2 linked regions of the Homo sapiens genome follow. The protein of the gene in region 1 purifies or fractionates together with the protein of each later gene. This does not show direct contact. Each region holds a gene or a part of one and is shown in the gene's direction. Other genes may lie near its edges. The genes, in order: GCDH and ISCA1.

Region 1 (6,579 bases):
CCATTTGCAGTGGCTCACACCTATAATCCCAGCACTTTGGGAGGGTGAAGTGAGAAGATCCCTTGAGCCCAAGAGTTCGAAACCAGCCTGGGCAACGTAAGGAGACCCCATGTCTATTAGAAAAACAAAAAAAGGAAAGAGCCTATGTGACCTGCGCTAAGTGGACGTTGGCCCTCTTCCGTGGTGTCTCGGAGGTGTTCAGCTGCTTCAAGATGAAGCTGAACATCTCCTTCCCAGCCACTGGCTGCCAGAAACTCATTGAAGTGGACGATGAACGCAAACTTTGTACTTTTTATGAGAAGCGTATGGCCACAGAAGTTGCTGTTGACGCTCTGGGTGAAGAATGGAAGGGTTACGTGGTCGGAATCAGTGGTGGGAACAATAAACAAGGTTTCCCCTTGAAACAGGGTGTCTTGACCCATGGCCGTGTCCACTTGCTACTGAGTAAGGGGCATTCCTATTACAGACCAAGGAGAACTGGAGAAAGAAAGAGAAGATCAGTTCATGGTTGCATCGTGGATGCCAATCTGAGTGTTCTCAACTTGGTTATTGTAAAAAAAAGGAGAGAAGGGTATTCCTGGACTGACTGAGACTATGATGCCTCGTCACCTGGGGCCCAGTACAGCTAGCAGAATCCGTAAACTTTTCAGTCTCTCTAAAGAAAATGATGTCTGCCAGTATGTTGTAAAAAAGCCCTTAAACAAAGAAGGTAAGAAACCTAGGACCAAAGCACCCAAGATTCAGCGCCTTGTCACTCCACATGTCCTGCAGCACAAACAGCGGCGTATTGCTCTGAAGCAGCCGCATATTAAGAAAAATAAAGAAGAGGCTGCAGAATATGCTAAACTTTTGGCCAAGAGAATGAAGGAGGCTAAGAAGCACCAGGGACAAATCGTGAAGAGACGCAGACTGTCCTCTCTGCGAGCTTCCACTTCTAAGTCTGAATCCAGTCAGAAATAAGATTTTTTGAGTAACAAATAAGATCAGATTCGCAAAAAAAAAAAAAAACCCACAAGGCCCTGTGTGACCAGGCCTCTGCTGACCTTTCCACCTCATCTCTGGCCACTCATGTGATCCTCCCAGCCAGACTTAGCTACTTGAAATTCTCCAGAAGTACCACCAGTTCTTTACACATCTGTTCCCTCTCCCAGCACTGCTCTTCCCCACAGCCTCCTCCTGCTTAACTCCTCACACCCTTCCAGTTTGGCCAACTCCTTCCTGATTCCCTGGGTCCCCCTCCCCATCTTGGCATTGTGATCATGACTTTGGGGTAACCTGTCTCTTGAAAGCAGGGCCAGATCTAACTTAGTTATGAGGTCTGACTCAGGGGCGAGGGTAATTTTTTTTTTCTTTTTTTGAGACAAAGTCCCGCTCCGTCCCCCAGGCTGAAGTGCAGTGGTACAATCTTGGCTCACTGCAACCTGCGGTTCCCCAGTTCAAGCAATTCCTGTGCCTCGGCCTCCCAATTAGCTGGGATTGCAGGTGCTTGCTACCCGTGCCTGGCTAATTTTTGTATTTTTAGTAGAGATGGTGTTTCACTATGTTGGCCAGGCTGGTCTCGAACTCCAGACCTCAAGTGATCCATCTGCCTTGGCCTCCCAAAGTGCTGAGATTACATGTGTGAGCCACCTCGACTGGCCTAATTTTTTGTATTTTTAGTAGAGATGGGGTTTCACCATATTGGTCAGGCTGGATTTTTTTTCTTTTTTGAGATGGAGTCTTGCTCTGTTGCCCAGGCTGTAGTGCAGTGGCATGATCTTGGCTCACTGCAACCTCTCCTGCCCGGGTTCAAGCGATTCTCCTGCCTCAGTCTCCTGAGTAGCTGGGATTACAGGCACCCACCACCACATCTGGCTATTTTTTTTTTTTTTTTTTTTTAAGTAGAGATGGGGTTTCACCATGTTGGCCAGGCTGGTCTGGAACTCCTGACCTCAATTGATCCACCTGCCTTGGCCTCCTAAAGTGCTGGGATGACAGGCGTGAGCCACTGCACCCCGCCACGAGGATAATTTTTGAGTAAGGGGATGTATCAGGGACCAGGCAGCCTTGTGACTTTGTCTTGTGCCTGCAGCCAAGGGGGAGCTCCTGGGCTGCTTCGGGCTCACAGAGCCCAACAGCGGAAGTGACCCCAGCAGCATGGAGACCAGAGCCCACTACAACTCATCCAACAAGAGCTACACCCTCAATGGGACCAAGACCTGGTAAGGGTTCTGGGTGGTGGGCAGGTGGTGAACAGGGGCAAAGGGGCACTGGTCAGACCCCTCACCGACTGTTCCATCCCCAGGATCACGAACTCGCCTATGGCCGATCTGTTTGTAGTGTGGGCTCGGTGTGAAGATGGCTGCATTCGGGGCTTCCTGCTGGAGAAGGGGATGCGGGGTCTCTCGGCCCCCAGGATCCAGGGCAAGTTCTCGCTGCGGGCCTCAGCCACAGGCATGATCATCATGGACGGTGTGGAGGTGCCAGAGGAGAATGTGCTCCCTGGTGCATCCAGCCTGGGGGTAAGTGGCAGCCACTTTGGGAATGGGTGTTGGGTCACCTGCGGATGCGGCTTTGTCAGGCAGGCTCCGTGCTGGGGACGCGGCTCCCTGTGCCTGTGGAGCCCACACAGTGGTGATTCTTACTCAGCCGGACTCGCTGACGTGCTGAAAACTGCCCCCATTTGGTGACCGTCTCGCTCATCCCGGCTCTGCCCGGGACACATGGGCCTGAACCAGCTCAGTCATTTGACTCACAGTGCATCTTCTGGCATCCGTCAGCCTCCTGGCTCTGAGCATCGAACCCAGATGCCAGGCTGGGTGGGACTGTGTGCAAACCGAGTGAGCAGGCACCGAGCTTCAGTGCCAGGGCCATCTGTGATGTGAACCACAACCTGAGTCCCCCTGCGTGGGGTGGCTGGGGAGGAGGCTTTCCCTGCTTCAGAGTTGGTTCTGCATAGGCCCTCTTGGTGTCTCTTGGGTGGGCCTGAGGCGCCATCTCAACCCTACAGGGTCCCTTCGGCTGCCTGAACAACGCCCGGTACGGCATCGCGTGGGGCGTGCTTGGAGCTTCGGAGTTCTGCTTGCACACAGCCCGGCAGTACGCCCTCGACAGGTGTGTGAGGGCTGCAGTGAGATTCTCTGGGGGTGTGGGGCAGCTTGGGTTTCACTCTCTATACCATGGGTGACTCCCCAGCCCCCACCCACCAGGCCTGAGTTCCTTGCTCTGGAATGACCAGTGACGTCCTTCTGAGCAGCTGTGGGCTGAGTCAACGGCAGGGCCAGGGCAAGCTTGGGGGCACTGAGGCAGCCTGGGAAGGCGTCCTGGAGCAGGGGGCCCCAGGACAGGGACGGGGTGGGAGAGTGGGCCTCCCCTCGCTCTTACCCTGCCATTGCCCATGTAGGATGCAGTTTGGTGTCCCACTGGCCAGGAACCAGCTGATTCAGAAGAAGCTGGCAGACATGCTCACTGAGATTACCCTGGGCCTTCACGCCTGCCTGCAGCTCGGCCGCTTGAAGGACCAGGACAAGTAGGGGCTGTGTGGTGGGGGCGGGGGGATGGCAGCGGTGGCTGGAGGACCTTGTGTCCTTCCTGGAGAGAAAGGTCCTTCCTGCCTGGTGGCCCTGGGGACCTGAACCTTCTGCTGTCCCTCTTGTCCTTGATGGGCTGGGCTGAGGACAGCCCCACTGGTCCCTCATTGGGAGCTTGGCTGCATCAGGGAATCCCCACCCCGGGCTAGGTTTGCTTGGAGCATCGGGATGCCAGGATCCCCAGTCCTTGTTACCCTCATGTGCCACTCCCAGGGCTGCCCCCGAGATGGTTTCTCTGCTGAAGAGGAATAACTGTGGGAAAGCCCTGGACATCGCCCGCCAGGCCCGAGACATGCTGGGGGGGAATGGGATTTCTGACGAGTATCACGTGATCCGGCACGCCATGAACCTGGAGGCCGTGAACACCTACGAAGGTAGGAGCTGGACCTCAGAGGGCTCACTGAGGCCTCAGTGTCTGGGGAGGGGGTACAGGGAGGTGGGACGGGGACAGGTCTGAGTCCAACTCCACCTATCACTAAGTGACAGTGTGACCTGGGGCGAGCCTTACCCCTCTGTCCCTCATCTGGAGTTACTCACATGGGGACTGTGGAAGTGAAGTGCTTCATGCAGCACACAGAGGCCCCATCAGGCCTTGCGAGGGGCTCCCAGCTCTTTCTCCCACATGCTCGGGAGGAGGGATGTTCCTGAGACAGGTAAGCTCCGAAGGCAGCCCAGGGGTGAGGCCCGACTCCTAGCAGGCTGGTGGACGCAAGGGAGTGAGCGAAGCTACACGCAGGAATCAACGCTCCATTTTGTTAAGAGACAAAAGTCATCTTCAGATGACGGTGTTTGCACCCTGTAACTGATGGTGATTTACATGGGGGTCCAGAACCCCTTGCTTGGTGGGAAGACAGATGTGGAAAAAGATACTTAAAAAAAAAAAAAAAGTGCAAACCCAGCATGCGCTATGTAGAAATAGAGGGAGGTATGAGGACCCCCCGGGCAGAGATGCTTCCAGACAGAGAGAACAGCAAATGCAGGAGGGGTGCCTTCCCTGCGCACCTTGCAACCCCAGATCTTGTCTCTATCTGGCATCTGGGGGGTGGGGGGATCCTACAAATGTGAGAATGACCCTGAGGACAAGCAGCGGGCGCCATGAGATGGTTTTATGCAGAGAAGGGATGAGTCAGATTTGGTGCTTTAGGGGCTCGGCGCAGTGGCTCACACCTGTAATCCCAGCGCTTTGGGAGGCTAAGGCAGGAGGATTGCTTGAGCCCAGGAGTTAGAAGTTATGATGAGCTATGATCACCCCACTGCACTCCAGCCTGGGTGACAGAGTGAGACCCTATCTATATTTAAAAAAAATAGGTTTGTACTTTAGGAAGTAAACAGAATTGGCTCTAAAAAGGAGGCTACAATCTGCCTTCTGCTTCAAGGAGCTGGGGAGGAGCAAAGGATGAGACACCAGGGCATGGGGTGTGGGATTCTCTGGGAGAGGCGGCTTCAGATGGGCAGAGGTCAGCTGAGGCAAGTGACTGCTCTTCCGATGTGCTGTCCCTCCTATCCCTCCCGAGGGTAAGAAAGGGCTTGCTGTGTTTCCTTGGAGCTCAGGGGTGCTTTCAGCCTCTGTGGCAAGGAAGCGTGGCCAGGTTGAAAATCAAACATTTAATAAACTGTGGGGCTGGGGGTGGGGAGAACTTGCCAAGGGTGGGGAGCACGAAGCCTGGGCCTATGGCAGGGGCTGGACTTGCTACATTTTGGGAGTTCAGCACAAGGAGCTTTGGGTTTTTGTTTTTTTCTGCCAAGATGCATTATAGAACCATGAAAAACAATTTCTCAGTGTGGCCCAAATGGTGGCCTCACAGTCTTCTCCTGGAGACTGTCACTAAGGCGTGAGTCTCCCGGCAGCTGTCAGCATTCACCATCTCTGTTGGTCTGTACTTCTGAAGCAGTGGCCTGGGGATACATGAAAATTGATTTTAAAGGGAAGTTGTGAGCTATGAAAACTCCAAACCGACTCTGTATTAATCTTGTCCAGGTACACATGACATTCACGCCCTGATCCTTGGGAGAGCTATCACGGGAATCCAGGCGTTCACGGCCAGCAAGTGAGCCGCTCCATCAGGGGCCCGAAACTCTCAAGCCCCTTTCTGGAGAGATGCCTGGCTGGACCGTAGGAGCGCTGTGCTCTGAGCTTAGAAAGGGAGGTGGCGGATGGAGTGGGAAGTGAGAGACACTGATTTTTAAATATCAAAATTTCCCTTCTGAAGTCGTTCAGATGTGTTCCTTAAAAAGAAGATGGAATTCTCTGTAGAGCGTCTCAATCCACTTTTAACCATGGATGAGAGCAGACTCCATTTACCCTGAAATAGCAGCTTCTCTTGAGAGGAGAGTGACATGGAAGCAACTCCGTCTGCTGCAGCTGACCCCCTCACACTGAGTTCACAGTGCGCCCTCCCTCCCTCCCATCTGGGGGTAGTGCCTTATGCTGGGTGTTGGAGCAGAGTGAGGGAGAGGAAAATAAAGACCTGCACATCTGACCCCAAGGTGTCAGGCCGGTTTACTGGTAACCACCTGAGAAGTAGTTTCAGCCACAGAAGAAACGAACACGTCTGGGGGCTGTGAGTTGCCGGGACGTGGTGGGGACTTTCCCCTAGAGTGGTCTGGCCCCCATCTGAGTCTTAGGCTCTGCTGTAAAAAAGAAACCCAGGTTAGCAGTGCCGGTCTGTGCCAGGGCTGTGGGCAGAGGGGATGATTTCTGAGTGGCAGGGGTGCAAGGGACTTTGTCCTTTCTGTCACCACAGAGCTGCTCATACAACAGTGGGACATGACAACGGTTTGGCTTCTCAGCTCAGACACACCATGTTATAGGGGATCACAAACAAGATGGTGAGTGCACCAAGGGCTTTGCAGGGACTGTGGCCTGGCGGGGTCAGGGCTGGGTGCCTGGTTTCTGTTCACATTTACTCTTGGCTGGGCCATCCCTGTCCTCTTCCTCAGGCAGCGCCCCCCCTGTGAGTTTACTCATACCTCAGGCTGGAGACACAGGTCTTTGTACACAGTCTCCACG
Region 2 (16,220 bases), on another chromosome or scaffold:
AAGATGATTTCCCAGAGTGAGTTTACAGCCTTTTCTGGGTGAAAGGTCAAACACTCAGAGGGCACCAGAGTGCAACCATTGATTACTTAGAGAATTCACTGAGCTCAGTGTTCCGGCCGCACCGTTCAGTTTTTTAGTGGAAGGAAAATCCACATAACATAAAATTAGTCCTTTTAAAGGGTACAATTCAGTGCCATTTAAGACATTCACAGTGTCGTGCAACCATCACCTCTATCTAGTTCCAAAATACTTTCACCCCAAAAGAAAAATTTATGATCACGTTCCTACATACACTCCCCTTTTAGTGAAGGAGACGACTTTATGCAACCATTCGCTTAGAGACTGGGAAAAAAAACGATTTAAATTGACTCATCGATTCTGTTGCATCTAATGCCAAAAGGGCCTATTACCAGAAAATAAGTTTGTAGCAAAGTAGAAGAAAATTGTGATCAGGTGAGAGAATTTATTTTTATAATCAATTTTTTAGGCCTTTGATATTACCCTGATTATATATGGTACTACTAGTGTACTGATTATGTATCATTCTATATTACCTCTTTTCTGTAGGAGCAAGCTTATTTTCATACACCGTGGGATGTAGAATTAAACAAGGTTTTAAGAACTAGAGGGCACAACTCATTCTTTGTGTCTCTTTCAATCTCAGTAAGAATTATTCAGAATTCTTCCACTGGTAATGGTAGATCCAGGAAGAGCCAGAAGGTTCAGGAACAGTTTTTGCCTTTTCTTTTTTGCTTTTTAGCAACCCTATTAACTGGGTTTTTTGTTTTTTGTTTTTTGTTTGTTTGTTTGTTTTTGTTTGTTTTGTTTTTGGAGACAGGGTCTCACTCTATCTCCCAGGCTGTAGTTCAGTGGTGCAATCATGGCACACTGCAGCGTCAACCTCCTGGGCCCAAGCGATCCTCCCACCTCAGGCTCCCAAGTCGCTGGGACCACCGGTGTGCACCGTCATGCATGCACCTAGGGTCTCCCTGGGTTGCCCAGGCTGGTCTCGAACTCCTGGGCTCAAGCAGTCCACTGCCTCAGGCTCCCAGTGTGCAGGGATTACAGGTGTGAGCCACCATGCCTGGTCCCTGATGTCTTTCTCCATCACCATTTGACATGTTACCTCTTCCTTCAGAATTTCTTTTTTTTTTTTTTTTTTTTGAGACAGGGTTTCGCTGGGTTGCCCAGGCTGGAGTGCAGTGGCGTGATCTCAGCTCACTGCAGCCTCTGCCTACTGAGTTCAAGCAACTCTCTGCCTCAGCCTCCTGAGTAGCTGGGATTACAGACGCCCACCACCATGCCCAGCTTATTTATTTATTTATTTTTGTATTTTTAGTAGAGATGGGGTTTCACCATCTTCACCAGGCTGGTCTTGGACTCCTGACCTCGTGATCCACTCGTCTCAGCCTCCCAAAGTGCTGGGATCACAGGCATGAGCCACCGTGCCTTGCCCTTCCTTCAGAATTTCTATGTCAGTCCCTTTCTCTCCATTCCTAGTCATTCAGCAGACATTTATCAAGATCTGCTGTGTTTCAAGACAAATGAATGAGTTATACAGTTCCCAGCCTACGGGGCACAGTCGCAGGCCAAGCCTTTGCCACCTCTTACTAGGAGTAATAGCACTGCACATTCTCAGGCTTGGTCTCTCTCCACACTTGCTCCCCTCTGCTTCAGTACATGTTATCATAGCAGTTCTCAAGGTATCCATGTTGCCTGACTCAGCTGTTTTGATTAACTTGCAGGAGTCTACTGTCTGTACTCTGTTGTCCTACTTAAGTATGGCTGACTTTAGAAGCTTCTCAGAAGCTGTACCAGAGAGAAGGCACATCAATGCTGTTTTCCACACAGCCTGTGTTGGTGGGCTTGCAGTCATTTTAGTTCCAGCATTCGTGCCCTAGTCAGGACACTATGGCATGTATTGCTCTTTGTGCTTAGTTTATCATCAGCATGTATCGTCAAGTGCAAAAGTAGTGATGCCGTCAAAGGCCTAATGAATGGAGACAGATAAGAGAGCAAACAAAAGTATACGTAATTCAGTAAAACTGATTGGAAGAGGTAAATGTTACTTGGGTCTAATAAGTAGAGACAGATAAGAGCAAACACAAGTATACCTAATTCAGTAAAACTGATTGGAAGGGATAAATGTTACCTGGATATATAAATTTTGATGTTAGGAATTTGACATGTTGCAACATTTGAAAAGTGCTATATGTGTGGAGTCTACCAGATGTCAACAAAAGGCTAGGAAAAGTAACTGATAATATAACACAGTTCAATGCTGTCATTATCAGATTATCTACATCTTCCCTATTTCCCTACATATCTAGAAATTGACAAGTGGAATTGAACTTGCAGGAGCCAGATGTGATTAAAGAATCTGAAGAGTAAATAGTGCCCTGCTTGCAGACAGATTTATTTCCATCATTGTACAAGTCAGAGCAACTCTAATTTGTAGGACTGGGGTGGATCACAGCTGTGCATTAAAACTCAACCAAGTTCTATGAGAGAATGATGGTGCACAGCCACTATCATTCTTGATGAATTCATTGTGTACGGAAGGTGCCTTAGGGCTTAACTTTCTATTGGAGTCCAGTTGAGAAGCTAGGAAATGCTTAATGCTCAGTAAGGAACTGTGTGTTAGTTCATTGGACTAGAACCAGAAGTCCTTTTGAACAGTGACCAAGCACTAAGATTTCTATACGAAGGCAGTTTAGGAAATACTACACAAGAAGCACTGGAAGTAGCCTAGCAGTCTAACAGTGAAAGAACGGTTAAGTACGTGAGAGTAGATCCTGTTGGTGAAGGATGTAGTCATTGTAAATTATGGTTTTTTTTAAGTTTCAGCGTTATAAATCTTCATTCTTTGACTTATGCTGTGCAAATTATTTAATCTTTAATACCTAAATCACAATGGCAGGAATAAAAAGATGTTACGTTTAAACCATTAAACACTTAGAAGGTGCTCAGTAAATGGTGAATATATGTTTATTACCATGTATCAAATGAAAAAATAATTTGTTAAATTGTTTCAATGGAGGCTGCAAAATTATGTATATATGCCATGATTACAAACCTTTTTCTTTTTAGAGACAGGATCTTCCTCTGTCACCCAGGCTCATATGCAGTGGCATGATCATGGCTTACTGCAGCTTCAAACTCCTGGGCTCAAGCAATCCTTTCACCTCAGCCTCCCAAGTAACTGGGACTACAGGCACATGTCACCTTGACTGCTAATTTTTTTTTTTTAATTTATTGTAGAGACAGGGTCTTGCTCTGTTGCACAGGCTGGTCTCAAACTCCTGGCCTCAAGCCGTCCTCCCACCTTGGCCTCCCAAAGTGCTGGCATTACAGGCATGAGCCACCACACCTGGCCTACAAATATATATTTGTATATTATATGTATTTTGGATGTGTATATACACATATACACAAATAAGAAAAGACAAAAGAGAATGCTTTTGTCTTTTCTTATTTTGACACTCTAATGCCAGCCATGGCTGTTAAAGAATGATTTTAATAAAATACACTGTACTTGTTCACTGGCTCTATTTATTTACCATCTTTTGTTCCCCCAGAAAATTGATATGTTGACATTAAAATGCCATGTTTGTAGAGAAATTAAGTTGTAGTTGTTGGCACATGTTTAGTATGCATAATCACAGAGTTAACTTTAGCTTTGAATTTAATTTAATTTTCTTAAACAGCAAAAAATGAAAATTGCCTGGGGAGTTACTTAAAGAAATACAGGATTGAGAATGAAAAGTTTCTCCTACAAGGATTAGAAAGCGTGTTGCTATGAAGTAGTGATAAAACATTCATCTACAATGCCTTTTCCCTTAATTTTAACAGCGGAAACATCTTGGAAATATATTTATTTTTCAATTAGGCCAAAATACCTTACCTCAAAGATAACCTCTCACTTTAAAAGTCATATTCCTGTGATTTGCATGTGAGTAAAAACCATCATATTTTAGTGGGCTTCAGGAAGCTCTTAAATTTTAAAACATGGGCCAAATCTCAGGTAAGCTATATTCATTAATAGTACATAAATTTCTTGAGAATTACATGTTTCTTAGTTGTTCTGGGAAGTGCACTGGTACTGGCAGGCTGCTAGGCCCTGCAGCATGCTGTGTAGTTGAAGATTTTATGCTGTTTCTCACATGAATTTTACCTAAGCACAAAGTTGCCAGAGTATGTAGACTTAAAGCAGGGTAGGATTCTTAGCCTCTCCCTGGTACTGAGACACAAAAAGTACCTCTTATAGCTCGATTTTTTTTAAGTCCCAACTCTTCCCTTTTAACCACTCTCCCTTGTTCTGAAAATCAGATCAGTCACTTTGAAAGTTCTAAGAACCTTTTCCCTTGGTTGAGTACTGACCTGGGTTGTCCATCATTAGTAACACCCTCCCAGTGGAGTAGGTTTGGTTTTGGCCTGGCACAGGAAAATTAAGACATATTTTAGTTCCTGTAACAGCAGCTTCCCAGGCACACAGGTTCCTGTTGAATGTTACTTTTCCCTTAAAGAGTCCTTCAGTATGAGATGTGAACATCAGCAACTTGGTGATAAGTAGACCAATCCCCACGAATTGCTTTCATTTACTGTATTTAAGTGTTTCCTGCTAAAAGTTGAGAAAATAAGAAAATAGATGACTTTGTAAAACCAAATTAGATAATTTAGAAAACCACTTGGAGATAAAAAAAATTATATATTTGGGGCTGGTAAACGGAGTAGTGTGACAGACACATTTGTTTTGTTTAGATCATGCAGTGGTGTGCCCATCTGTGCCTTTGATCCACTCAGATTAAACCAAGACCACGTTTCAGATTTTAGTTCCCGCGGATATTTTCCATGGCTATGCCTTTTTTTTTTTTTTTTTTTTTTTTTTGAGACAGAGTCTCACTCTGTTTCCCAGGCTGGAGTGCAGTGGCATGATCTCGGCTTACTGCAGCCTCCGCCTCCTGGGTTCAAGCGATTCTCATGCGTCAGCCTCCGGAGTAGCTGGGATTACAGGCGCATGCCATCATCCTCAGCTAATGTTTGTATTTTTAATAGAGACGGGGTTTCACCATGTTGGCCAGGCTGGTCTCAAACTCCTGACTTCAAGTGATCCTTCCACCTTGGCTGACCTCAAGTGATACTTCCACCTCGGCCTCCCAAAGTGTTGGGAATATAGGCATGAGGCACCAGGCCCAGCCAGGCTATGCCTTTTTAAAATAAACTTACAGAAAGCTATTTTTATTTGACAGTAAGTGATTAATTTCTTCAGCATGCACATAGGAAAATATGGTGAAAATTTACATGTGGTTGATAAGAAAGCTAGCTTTTATTGACAATCACTTAGAACAGGGGTCCCCAGTCCCTGCGCTACAGACTGGTACTGGTCCATGGCCTGTTAGGAACAGGGCCTCACAGCAGGAGGTGAGAGCAGCAGGCAAGCCAAGCATTACCACCTAAGCGAGCTCCACCTCCTGTCAGATCATCAGGGGCATTAGATTCTCATAGGAGCACAAACCCTAGTCTGAACTGCAGGTGTGAGGGGCTAGTTTGTGCACTCCTTATGAGAATGATGCCTGATGATCTGTCACTGTCTCTCATCACCCCTAGATGGGGCCATCTAGTTGCAGAAAAACAAGCTCAGGGCTCCCACTGATTGTATATTTTGATGAGTTATATAATTATTTCATTATATATTACAATGTAATAATAGAAATAAAGTGCACAATAAATGTAATGCATTTGAATCATTCAGAAACCATTCCCCTTATCCGTGGAAAAATTGTCTTCCACGAAACCAGTCCTTGATGCCAAAAACATTTGGGACCACTGCTTTAGAAGGGTAATGAGCACTTTAAAAAATAATAACTATTTCTGTAACTATTTAAAGTTGGTATTCTGTGACTCAAAAAACAAAAACAAAACCATAATCCTGCTCTTCCCTGTTTTCTCCTTCCACCCTGTGTGCTACTTCCTGCGTTGGAGGACTGCATGCCTCCTTTTCTGACAGAACCATGGGAAACCATGGGCCTTTAGAGGCCCACCTACTGGTAGTGGTTTGTTTTTTTACAGTGACATGTAATAAGAAATGTATATACACAGATACTATATATTAATAACTGAATTAAAAGTTTTACTAAACAACATTCACGTTTTTAAGTGCAGTGCATTGTTTTCTATTTAAAATGTTTAAGACATGTTGGTCTTCACATTCCAAATTGCTTTCATGCCCTTCTAAACTGGGTCTGTACTGTGTTTAAGCATGCTCATCTAGCTGAGCCCCAACCCCGACAGGGCAGGAGAGCACACTCTAGGGCCATCCATTGGGCTGGCTCTTCCAGGTGTCAGTCCTGGCCTCAGTTTACTACCAAGTCTTAGGTCGTAATATCCAGACTTTGAGACTTCACAAGCAGTCTCAAAGACTTTACTGTACAGTAAAATGTCAGTACAAGGGACTGGAGGGCCTGCAGAGCACTGCCAGCTAGAGGAGCTGATAAAGTAGGAAGGACGCACATAATGTCTTCATTATGATGTACTCTCATAATCATAATAATACTTGGTATTTTTGTGCCTGGCACTGTCCTGAATGCTTTCCATGAGTTTAAATATTTAATCCTCACAAGAATCAGGAGGAGGAGGAACTGTTATCCCTGTTTCACCAGTAAGGGAATAGAAGTCAGAGAAGCCACTTAGGGTGACTGCCCTGGAGGCACAGCTAGGAAGTGGGCCAGGAATGTCGGGGAACAGTCTCCTTCCCAAAGAAGTGGGGTTGGCAACACCGACCTATTTCACACAAACTGTGATGTTTTTCTCATTTTGAGGCCCGCTGAGCTATGTTAAAACAGCATTTCTCTGGGAAACAGCTCCTCCTTGTTCTTATTTCTGTCATTGACTAGCTTAGTTTTGTTCATCTAGATCTCCTGAGATGTTGGTTTAATCCACGTTGAAAAAAATCTATGTGAGCATTTGGTGGGACTGGTGCAAGAAGCACACCCTGGGTTATTTTATGCTGGTAACACTGTTTCCTCAAGCTATGCATTTTGATGGATTAGAAATGGATTGTGAGTAAGAAAAAAAAAAGCAGTAGGATTAATAATCAACAGGAAAAACACCTGAAGGTTGGCCTTCCCAGTGAGATACTTGATTCCTTCATTGGCTCTTTGTCGTAGGCAACATGCTGGTTCCTGGGCATAGAGTTGGTGCACAAAATAGATGCTGCCCAGAAAAATAGCATTTGTAATGTGAGTGAATAGCACCATAGAGAGAAGGACAGGGAACCAACCTGGACTGAGGAGCAAGATTAAAAGGATGTTGCTAGCAGATTTTTTTTTTAAATAAAGAGGATATTTTGAATTAGGTATAGTTTATGTGTTTCTATATAAAGTCCATAAGGTACCCTGGCAAGAATGGAACATAAATTTGTCACATGAATTTGCTAAAGACAGACTTACGAAGACTGATAAATATGAGGCTTTGAATAACAAGTTTTGTAGCTAAAAACATCATTTTCTTTTTTCAGACACCTTCAGCAGTAAACAAGATAAAACAACTTCTTAAAGATAAGCCTGAGCATGTAAGTAAAACCAGTTAATTATTCAGTAAAAAACTGAAGCTGCATTTTCAGAATGAATTTATCCCATGATATACAGTATTATTTCATTTAGGGGTTTTTATTTAAAATGTAAAATATACTCAGGATTTTTAAAAAATTCAAATAATACAAAAGGGTATTTAACTAAAAGGAAGTCATTCTTTCAACCTGACTCTTCGTCGTCATTCTTCCTTCCAAGAAGCAATCTCTTTGGTATCCTTCCAGGGATAATGTATACATTTGAAGCGGCTAGACCTGATTTTCTCAGCCTCCTCACAGTTGACACTTTAGGGCAGATTGTAGAATGTTTGACAGCATCTGTGGCCTCTGTCCATTAGATACCAGTAGTACCCCCTCTTTGCCTCAACCAAAGAATCCACATATGTGGAACCCACCGATACGGAGAGGTGACTGTATAGAGTAAAAGTATGGTGAGTACTATTTCACCAGCAGTTCCTGATTCCACAAAGCTTTGGTTGTCACAACCAAAAATGTCTCCCTGAGGGCAACCACTGGCCTAGACTGGGCTTGTTATTCCTGTGTATATCTCTTCCTACCATAAATTTTTTTGTTACACTTTGCTTTTTACCCTTAATAATGGCTTGAAGATCTTTCCATGTCATTATGTAATGATCTGCCTCCCTTTCTTGGCTGCATGTAGAGTATATTCCATTGAACAAGTTTGAGTTCTTTAACCAGTCCCCATATTAAAGGGTCGTTTTCATTCAGTGCTGCCGCAAACACCATTCAGCAACTATTTAGTGTCTGCAGTGTGCCAGGCTCATTGTTCTAGAACTGTAAGCATGGCTTAGTCCACCTACATAGGATCCATTCCTAGATACAGAATTGTTGAGTTAGGGATGTGTGTATCATCTTAATTGTACATTGTTAGTTGCCGATGGAATGCTGTAAATCATTTCAAGTAATGGATTGCAATATTTAATAATTAGACGGTGGGGTGATTTCTGGTTTCTGTTGTTAACCTACTACATTACAATGTAATGGAAGTTCTCAAACCTACCTTTTAAAATTATTAAATTTCAAAGGATATCAGTGTTCTGATTCAATTTGGATAGACCGATGAGTAGACTACAAATTGGCCTAATGAAACAAGAATTCGGCTTTGTAGAATCAGGAACTGCTGGTGAAATAGTACTTATGATACTTTTGCTGTATACAGTCACCTCTCCGTATCTGTGGGTTCCGCATACGTGGATTCAATCAACCATAGGTCAGAAATATTTGGGAAAAAAATAGAAGGTTGCATCTGTATTAAACATGTACAGACTTTCATTCTCTAAACAATACAGTATAACAACTGTTTATGTAGCATTACATTGTTACAGGTATTCAAGTCCTCCAGAAGTTATTTAAAGTACAGGGGAAGATGTATATAGGTTATATACAAATGCAGTGCCATTTGCATAAGGGACTTGAGTATCTGCAGATTTTTGTATACTCAGTTAGTCCTGGAACCAATTTCCCATGCATACTAAGGGATGACTGTATTTAAATGAAAAATCAGCTCAGCTCTAAGACAGAGAACTTAGGTAGATACTGTTTGAAAATTGCATTAATGTAAACATTGATACTTTTAAAGTGCTGTTTGGTCACTTTTTTAAACTTCTTTTGTCTGTATTGACTGCAGTCTTTTGCTTTCTGGTATTTGAGACTGTACACAAGTCTGCACTATAATTCAGATCCCATGTAGAGGTAGGATTGCCAGATGGTGGACTATGAACCCTGGTGAATCCTAACCATAAGGAAACATTCAGAGGATATCTCACAGAACAAGGTAGAGCAAAGACATTTTAAATAAAGTCCCAGGCTGGACGGGGTGGCTCCTGCCTTGTAATCCCAATGCTTTGAGAGGCCGAGGTGGAAGCGTTATTTGAGTCCACGAGTTTGAGACCAGTCTGGGCTACATAGTGAGACCCTGTCCTACAAAAAATAAGAGAAAGTCCATTTTGGTACGAGGAGGCTACTGTCACTTTATTAGTATAATTGTTTAATCTGTACTACTTTAAAACCAAGTTTATATTTTCACTTCTTTTTCAGGTAGGTGTAAAAGTTGGTGTCCGAACCAGGGGCTGTAATGGCCTTTCTTATACTCTAGAATATACAAAGACAAAAGGAGATTCTGATGAAGAAGTTATTCAAGATGGTGAGTTTTTAACAAACATTTTTTGGGCACATTGTTTTGCCTAAAATTATTAGCCTTGCACAGCACAAAGTAAAAAATAAGGATAGTAGCAGGAATTATGTAAATAATGCTCACTGTGTGTGTAGGTGTTGTTTGATGGAATTTCATGTATTAACTGATTTATACACAATGCTGAATGTGGGTGGTACCATATTATCCCTGTTTTTCTGATGAAGAAACTGAGGCACAGAGGGGTTAAATAGTTTAAGGTCATAATAAGTGGCCTAGTAAAATTCTTTCCAGAGACTGCTCTTAGTAACTAATTGATAAATTATTATATAAGCTTGTTTTAACTATGAAAGATCATCGTTGTGTCCAAAAAGTGAACCAGCCTTAAACCTCACAGTGAACCAACAGTTTTTGTGTAAGCAGTAGTTTTATATCTGTGTCAAATAAGTACGAGTTGAGCATTCCAATCCAAAAATCTGAAATCTGAAATGCTCCCAAATTCAAAACTTTAAAAGTGGGTGCTGACATGACACTCAGAGGAAATGCTCATTGGAGCTTTTTGGATTTGGGATGCTCAAGCAGTAAGTATAATGCAGATACAGTCATACATCACTTAACATTGGAGATACATTCTGAGAAATGTGACGTTAGACAAATATCCTGGGGTGTACTTAGACAAACCTAGACGGTCTGAGAAATGTGACATTGGACAAATATCCTGGGGTGTACTTACACAAACCTAGATGGTAGAGCCTACCATATGCCTCAGCTAGATAATATAACCTGTTGCTCCTAGGCTACAAACCTGTACTGCACGTGACTGTGCTGAATACTGTGCACAGTTCTGACACAATGGTAAGTATTTGTGTAAACGTACCTAAACAAAGAAAAAGTATAGTGAAATTTCTTTTATTATTATTATTATTATTATACTTTAAGTTTTAGGGTACATGTGCACAATGTGCAGCTTAGTTACATATGTATACATGTGCCATGCTGGTGTGCTGCACCCATTAACTCATCATTTAGCATTAGGTATATCTCCTAATGCTATCCCTCCCCCCTCCCCCCGCCCCACAACAGTCCCCAGAGTGTGATGTTCCCTTCCTGTGTCCATGTGTTCTCATTGTTCAATTCCCATCTATGAGTGAGAACATGTGGTGTTTGGTTTTTTGTCCTTGCGATAGTTTACTGAGAATGATGATTTCCAATTTCATCCATGTCCCTACAAAGGACATGAACTCATCATTTTTTATGGCTGCATAGTATTCCATGGTGTATATGTGCCACATTTTCTTAATCCAGTCTATCACTGTTGGACATTTGGGTTGGTTCCAAGTCTTTGCTATTGTGAATAGTGCCACAGTAAACATACGTGTGCATGTGTCTTTATAGCAGCATGATTTGTAGTCCTTTGGGTATATACCCAGTAATGGGATGGCTGGGTCAAATGGTATTTCTAGTTCTAGATCCCTGAGGAATCGCCACACTGACTTCCACAATGGTTGAACTAGTTTACAGTCCCACCACCAGTGTAAAAGTGTTCCTATTTCTCCACATCCTCTCCAGCACCTGTTGTTTCCTGACTTTTTAATGATTGCCATTCTAACTGGTGTGAGATGGTATCTCATTGTGGTTTTGATTTGCATTTCTCTGATGGCCAGTGATGACGAGCATTTTTTCATGTGTCTTTTGGCTGCATAAATGTCTTCTTTTGAGAAGTGTCTGTTCATGTCCTTTGCCCACTTTTTGATGGGGTTGTTTGTTTTTTTCTTGTAAATTTGTTTGAGTTCATTGTAGATTCTGGATATTAGCCCTTTGTCAGATGAGTAGGTTGTGAAAATTTTCTCCCATTTTGTAGGTTGCCTGTTCACTCTGATGGTAGTTTCTTTTGCTGTGCAGAAGCTCTTTAGTTTAATTAGATCCCATTTGTCAATTTTGGCTTCTGTTGCCATTGCTTTTGGTGTTTTAGACATGAAGTCCTTTCCCATGCCTATGTCCTGAATGGTAATGCCTAGGTTTTCTTCTAGGGTTTTTATGGTTTTAGGTCTAACGTTTAAGTCTTTAATCCATCTTGAATTAATTTTGGTATAAGGTGTAAGGAAGGGATCCACTTTCAGCTTTCTGCATATGGCTAGCCAGTTTTCCCAGCACCATTTATTAAATAGAGAATCCTTTCCCCATTGCTTGTTTTTGTCAGGTTTGTCAAAGATCAGATAGTTGTAGATATGCGGCGTTATTTCTGAGGGCTCTGTTCTGTTCCATTGATCTATATCTCTGTTTTGGTACCAGTACCATGCTGTTTTGGTTACTGTAGCCTTGTAGTATAGTTTGAAGTCAAGTAGCGTGATGCCTCCAGCTTTGTTCTTTTGGCTTAGGATTGACTTGGCGATGCGGGTTTTTTTTTTGGTTCCATATGAACTTTAAAGTAGTTTTTTCCAATTCTGTGAAGAAAGTCATTGGTAGCTTGATGGGGATGGCATTGAATCTATAAATTACCTTGGGCAGTATGGCCATTTTCACGATATTGATTCTTCCTACCCATGAGCATGGAATGTTCTTCCATTTGTTTGTATCCTTTTTTATTTCATTGAGCAGTGGTTTGTAGTTCTCCTTGAAGAGGTCCTTCACGTCCTTTTTAAGTTGGATTCCTAAGTATTTTATTCTCTTTGAAGCAATTGTGAATGGGAGTTCACTCATGATTTGACTCTCTGTTTGTCTGTTATTGGTGTATAAGAATGCTTGTGATTTTTGTGCATTGATTTTGTATCCTGAGACTTTGCTGAAGTTGCTTATCAGCTTAAGAAAATTTTGTAAAAGATCAAATGTGGTCGGGTGTGTTAACACAAGCCTGTTGTCCCAGCTACTCAGGAGACTGAGGCAGGAGGATTCCTTGAGTGTAGGAGTTCAAGAATGTAGTGCACTGGCCAGGCGTGGTGGCTCACCTGTGTAATCCCAGCACTTTGGGAGGCCGAGGTGGGTGGATCATGAGGTCAGGAGTTCACGACCAGCCTGGCCAACATGGTGAAACCCCATCTCTACTAAAAATACAAAAAATTAACTGGGTGTGGTGGCACACGCCTGTAGTCCCAGCTACTGGGAGGCTGAGGCAGGAGAATCGCTTGAACCCCAGGAGGCGGAGGTTGCAGTGAGCCGAGACCATGCCATTGCACTCCAACCTGGGTGAAAAAGTGAGACTCTGTCTCAAAAAAGAAAAAAAGACATCATAGTGCACTGTGTTCTTACCTGTGAATAGCCACTGCCCTTAAGCCTGGGCAACATAGCGAGACCTCCATCTCTTAAAAAAAAGAAAAAAAAAGGAAGAAGAAGAAGAAAATAAAACATGGTACACCTGTTTGTGGCAGTTACCATGCATGGAACTTGCAGGACTGGAAGTTGTCCGCGTGAGTCAGTGAGTGAGTAGGGAGTGATAAGTGAATGTGAAAGCCTAGGACGTTCCTCCGTAGTACTATAGACCTTATAAACCTTGTACACTTAGTCTTCAATAATAAATTAACCTTAGTTTACTGAAACTTTTTTACTTTGTAAGCTTTGGGGTTTTTTTTTTTTTTTTTGACTCTTTTGTGATAACATTAGCTTTGAAACACATTGTACAAATAACAAAAATTTTTTACGTTCTTATTCTATAAGCTTTTCTCTATTTTTAATTTTTTCTTTATAAACATTTTAATTAAAAACTAAGACAAAAACACACGTATTAACTTAGGCCTCCACAGGGTCAGGTTCATCAATATCCCTGTCTTCCACCACCTCCCCTCATCCCATTGGAAGGCCGTCAGGGGCAGTAACACTCATGGAGTTGTCATCTTCTGTGATAATGATGCCTTCTTCTGGATACCTCCTGAAGAACCTGCCTCAGGCTGTTTCACGGTTAACTTTTTTTTTTATAAGTAGAAGTACACTCTAAAATTTTAAACAATAAAAAGTATAGTAAATACATAAAGCAGTAACATAACCATTTATTATCATTATCAAGTATTATGTAGTGTACATAATTGAACATGCTTAGACTTTTATATGACTGGCAGTATAGGTTTGTTTACACCAGCATCACCACAAACACCTGAGTAATGGGTTGTCTTGTGATATTATGGTGGCTACAGCATTGCTAGGCAATGGGAATTTTCAGCTCCATTATAATCCTTTTTTTTTTTTTTTTTTTAATTTGAGATGGTCTCGCTCTCTCACCCAGGCTGGAGTGCAGTGGTGTGATCTCGGCTTGCTGCAACCTCCACCTCCCTGGTTCAAGCGATCCTCCCACCTCAGCCTCCCAAGTAGCTGGGATTATAGGCGCCCACCACCATGCCTGGTTCATTTTTGTATTTTTAGTGGAGCTGTATTATCAACTCATGTTTTTGAGGAATCCTGTATTTCCAATTTTTATTCAAAGCTATTTATTATAATTTAATTTATAATTAAAATTAATTATATTTGCTGCTGCCCCCTTCTTCCACCCTATAATCTGTTAAAACCTATCTAAAATAAATAATTTATCTTGTCATTGGAAGTATGCACTTAGCTTGCAGTTCTTACCTACATGGGAGAATGAGGCCTAGATTCCTAAGTGTGCTTTCTTATTAAACTAAAGTTATAACTATCAATAAAGACCTTTTAAAAATGTATTATTTTAAAAATTATAACACATTATAAACCTTAAGATTTTCATCTTAAAGAAGAGGTGACTTAATTATATATTGTTTATATTTAGCTAATGGCTCAATTTCTTGTAAGGAAGAAAGTTTTTTTGTTGTTTCGTTGTTTTGTTTGTTTGTTGAGACAGAGTCTTGCTCTCTTACCCAGGCTGGAGTGCAGTGGCACAATCATGGTTCACTGTAGCCTCTGTCTCCCGGGCTCAAGCAGTCCTCCCACCTCAGCCTCCCGAGTAGCTGGGACTACAGGTGCCCACCACTGTGCCCGGCTAATTTTTGTATTTTTAGTGGAGCCAGGGTTTTGCCCTGTTTCCCAGACTAGAAAGCTTTCTTAAATTGATTGTATTTGTTGGCTGGGCACTGTGGCTCACACCTGTAATCCCAGCACTTTGGGAGGCCGAGGTGGGAGGATCACTTGAGCCCAGGAATGCAAGACCAGCTTGGGCCACGTGGTGAAACCCTGACTCTAAAAAAATTAGTTGGTCCTGGTGGTATGTGCCTGTAATCCTGTGGGAGGATCGCTTGAGCCTGGGAGGTGGAGCTTGTGGTGAGCCATGATCATACCACTGCACTCCAGCCGGGGTGACAGAGTGAGACTCTGTCCAAAAAAAAAAAGATTGTATTTACAAAGATGCTGACCTCTACCTGTGTAATTACTAGGGAATAGTACCTGTTTTCCGTCCTGTAACCAGAAAAGACTATTGTTGTACTGATTGATGTTATTAAAATAGCCCCATTGTATCACAGTCCTTTGTACATCTTTAAGCTTGAATCCGTGTATCTAGTGTATTGCAGAATTTTCATAAATTTTTTTTTATTTCATAAAACTCATCGAGAATATACATTTTCTTCATGTTGCAAACTGGAAAAATGAGTGAAGTATAGTGAAAGGTAAATTCTAATTTTGCATAAAATTGTCATGGAATTTACTTGTATAAAATTCTCCCCTAATGTGATTGTGACATAAATTCATGTGTGGGAAAGAAGGGGCAGACAGGAAACTGAATGCTTAATTCCTTAAGGAAATAATTTAAAATGTTCAAGGCTTCTTGTTTGACTTTCATTGATAGTCACTATTTCAAGTTCACTTGTGCTTTGAATCAGCAAGTTCCATAAGGCTGCAGGCTTTCCATGACACATGTTTTCTTTTCTCCAAGGAGTCAGAGTATTCATCGAAAAGAAAGCACAGCTAACACTTTTAGGAACAGAAATGGACTATGTTGAAGACAAATTATCCAGTGAGTTTGTGTTCAATAACCCAAACATCAAAGGGACTTGTGGCTGTGGAGAAAGCTTTAATATTTGAAATCTCAGGACTCTTCTGGCCGTAGGTTCCAGGAAAGCTCGTGGAAGCTTTGGGGCTCACTGCAGAAATCATGTGACTGTCACGTGCTGGAAAATAAAGTGATACATCTTGAAAATGAATCCAGTGTGTTGGATTCCAGAAGAAATGATATTTATATTCTCTATAGGGGACAGAAAATGAGAAGCCATCACTCTTTTTGGATCATTTAGGTCTCTTGTATCCTTTGTTTTAGAACCAGTTTCATTAAAGTTGCCTTCCTGGGCACCTGTTTATCCATTTCCTGAACTGTGTGCACTCCTTAGATCGCTATTGATGGCTTGATCATCCCTCAGCATTTCTCCCAACCAGATCGGTGACTCCTAAAATCTGAGACAGGACATCGTGACTGCTGGTAGTAATATGGTGGTGCATTGTTTTTTCCACCCAAACTTAACATAGCCTTTTTATACATTTTTATGAAAAATTTCATTGTCAGCTGCCTCACTGCATACTCTTTAATAGTAC

What was found.
Region 2: the proteins of GCDH (region 1) and ISCA1 purify together in Homo sapiens (affinity purification with mass spectrometry; 2 studies listed by BioGRID and IntAct, with this or other methods). This does not show direct contact.

The regions. Positions count from the first base shown.
Region 1 is NC_000019.10:12,893,921-12,900,499, forward strand, and holds the end of GCDH (glutaryl-CoA dehydrogenase, mitochondrial isoform a precursor), read left to right. Parts: intron 1-173; exon of another isoform or gene 174-991; intron 992-2,071; coding exon 2,072-2,201; intron 2,202-2,284; coding exon 2,285-2,501; intron 2,502-2,989; coding exon 2,990-3,093; intron 3,094-3,382; coding exon 3,383-3,508; intron 3,509-3,782; coding exon 3,783-3,943; intron 3,944-4,865; exon of another isoform or gene 4,866-5,420; coding exon of another isoform or gene 5,421-5,465; intron 5,466-5,547; coding exon 5,548-5,621; 3' UTR 5,622-5,779; coding exon of another isoform or gene 5,780-5,823; 3' UTR 5,824-6,079; downstream 6,080-6,579. Other genes in the region: SYCE2 (synaptonemal complex central element protein 2), read right to left, coding at 5,421-5,465, 6,084-6,200, 6,540-6,579. UniProt on the Homo sapiens protein: Catalyzes the oxidative decarboxylation of glutaryl-CoA to crotonyl-CoA and CO(2) in the degradative pathway of L-lysine, L-hydroxylysine, and L-tryptophan metabolism. It uses electron transfer flavoprotein as its electron acceptor. Isoform Short is inactive.
Region 2 is NC_000009.12:86,265,539-86,281,758, reverse strand, and holds part of ISCA1 (iron-sulfur cluster assembly 1 homolog, mitochondrial precursor), read left to right. Parts: intron 1-305; exon of another isoform or gene 306-3,542; intron 3,543-7,516; coding exon 7,517-7,570; intron 7,571-9,646; coding exon 9,647-9,752; intron 9,753-15,567; coding exon 15,568-15,716; 3' UTR 15,717-16,220. UniProt on the Homo sapiens protein: Involved in the maturation of mitochondrial 4Fe-4S proteins functioning late in the iron-sulfur cluster assembly pathway. Probably involved in the binding of an intermediate of Fe/S cluster assembly.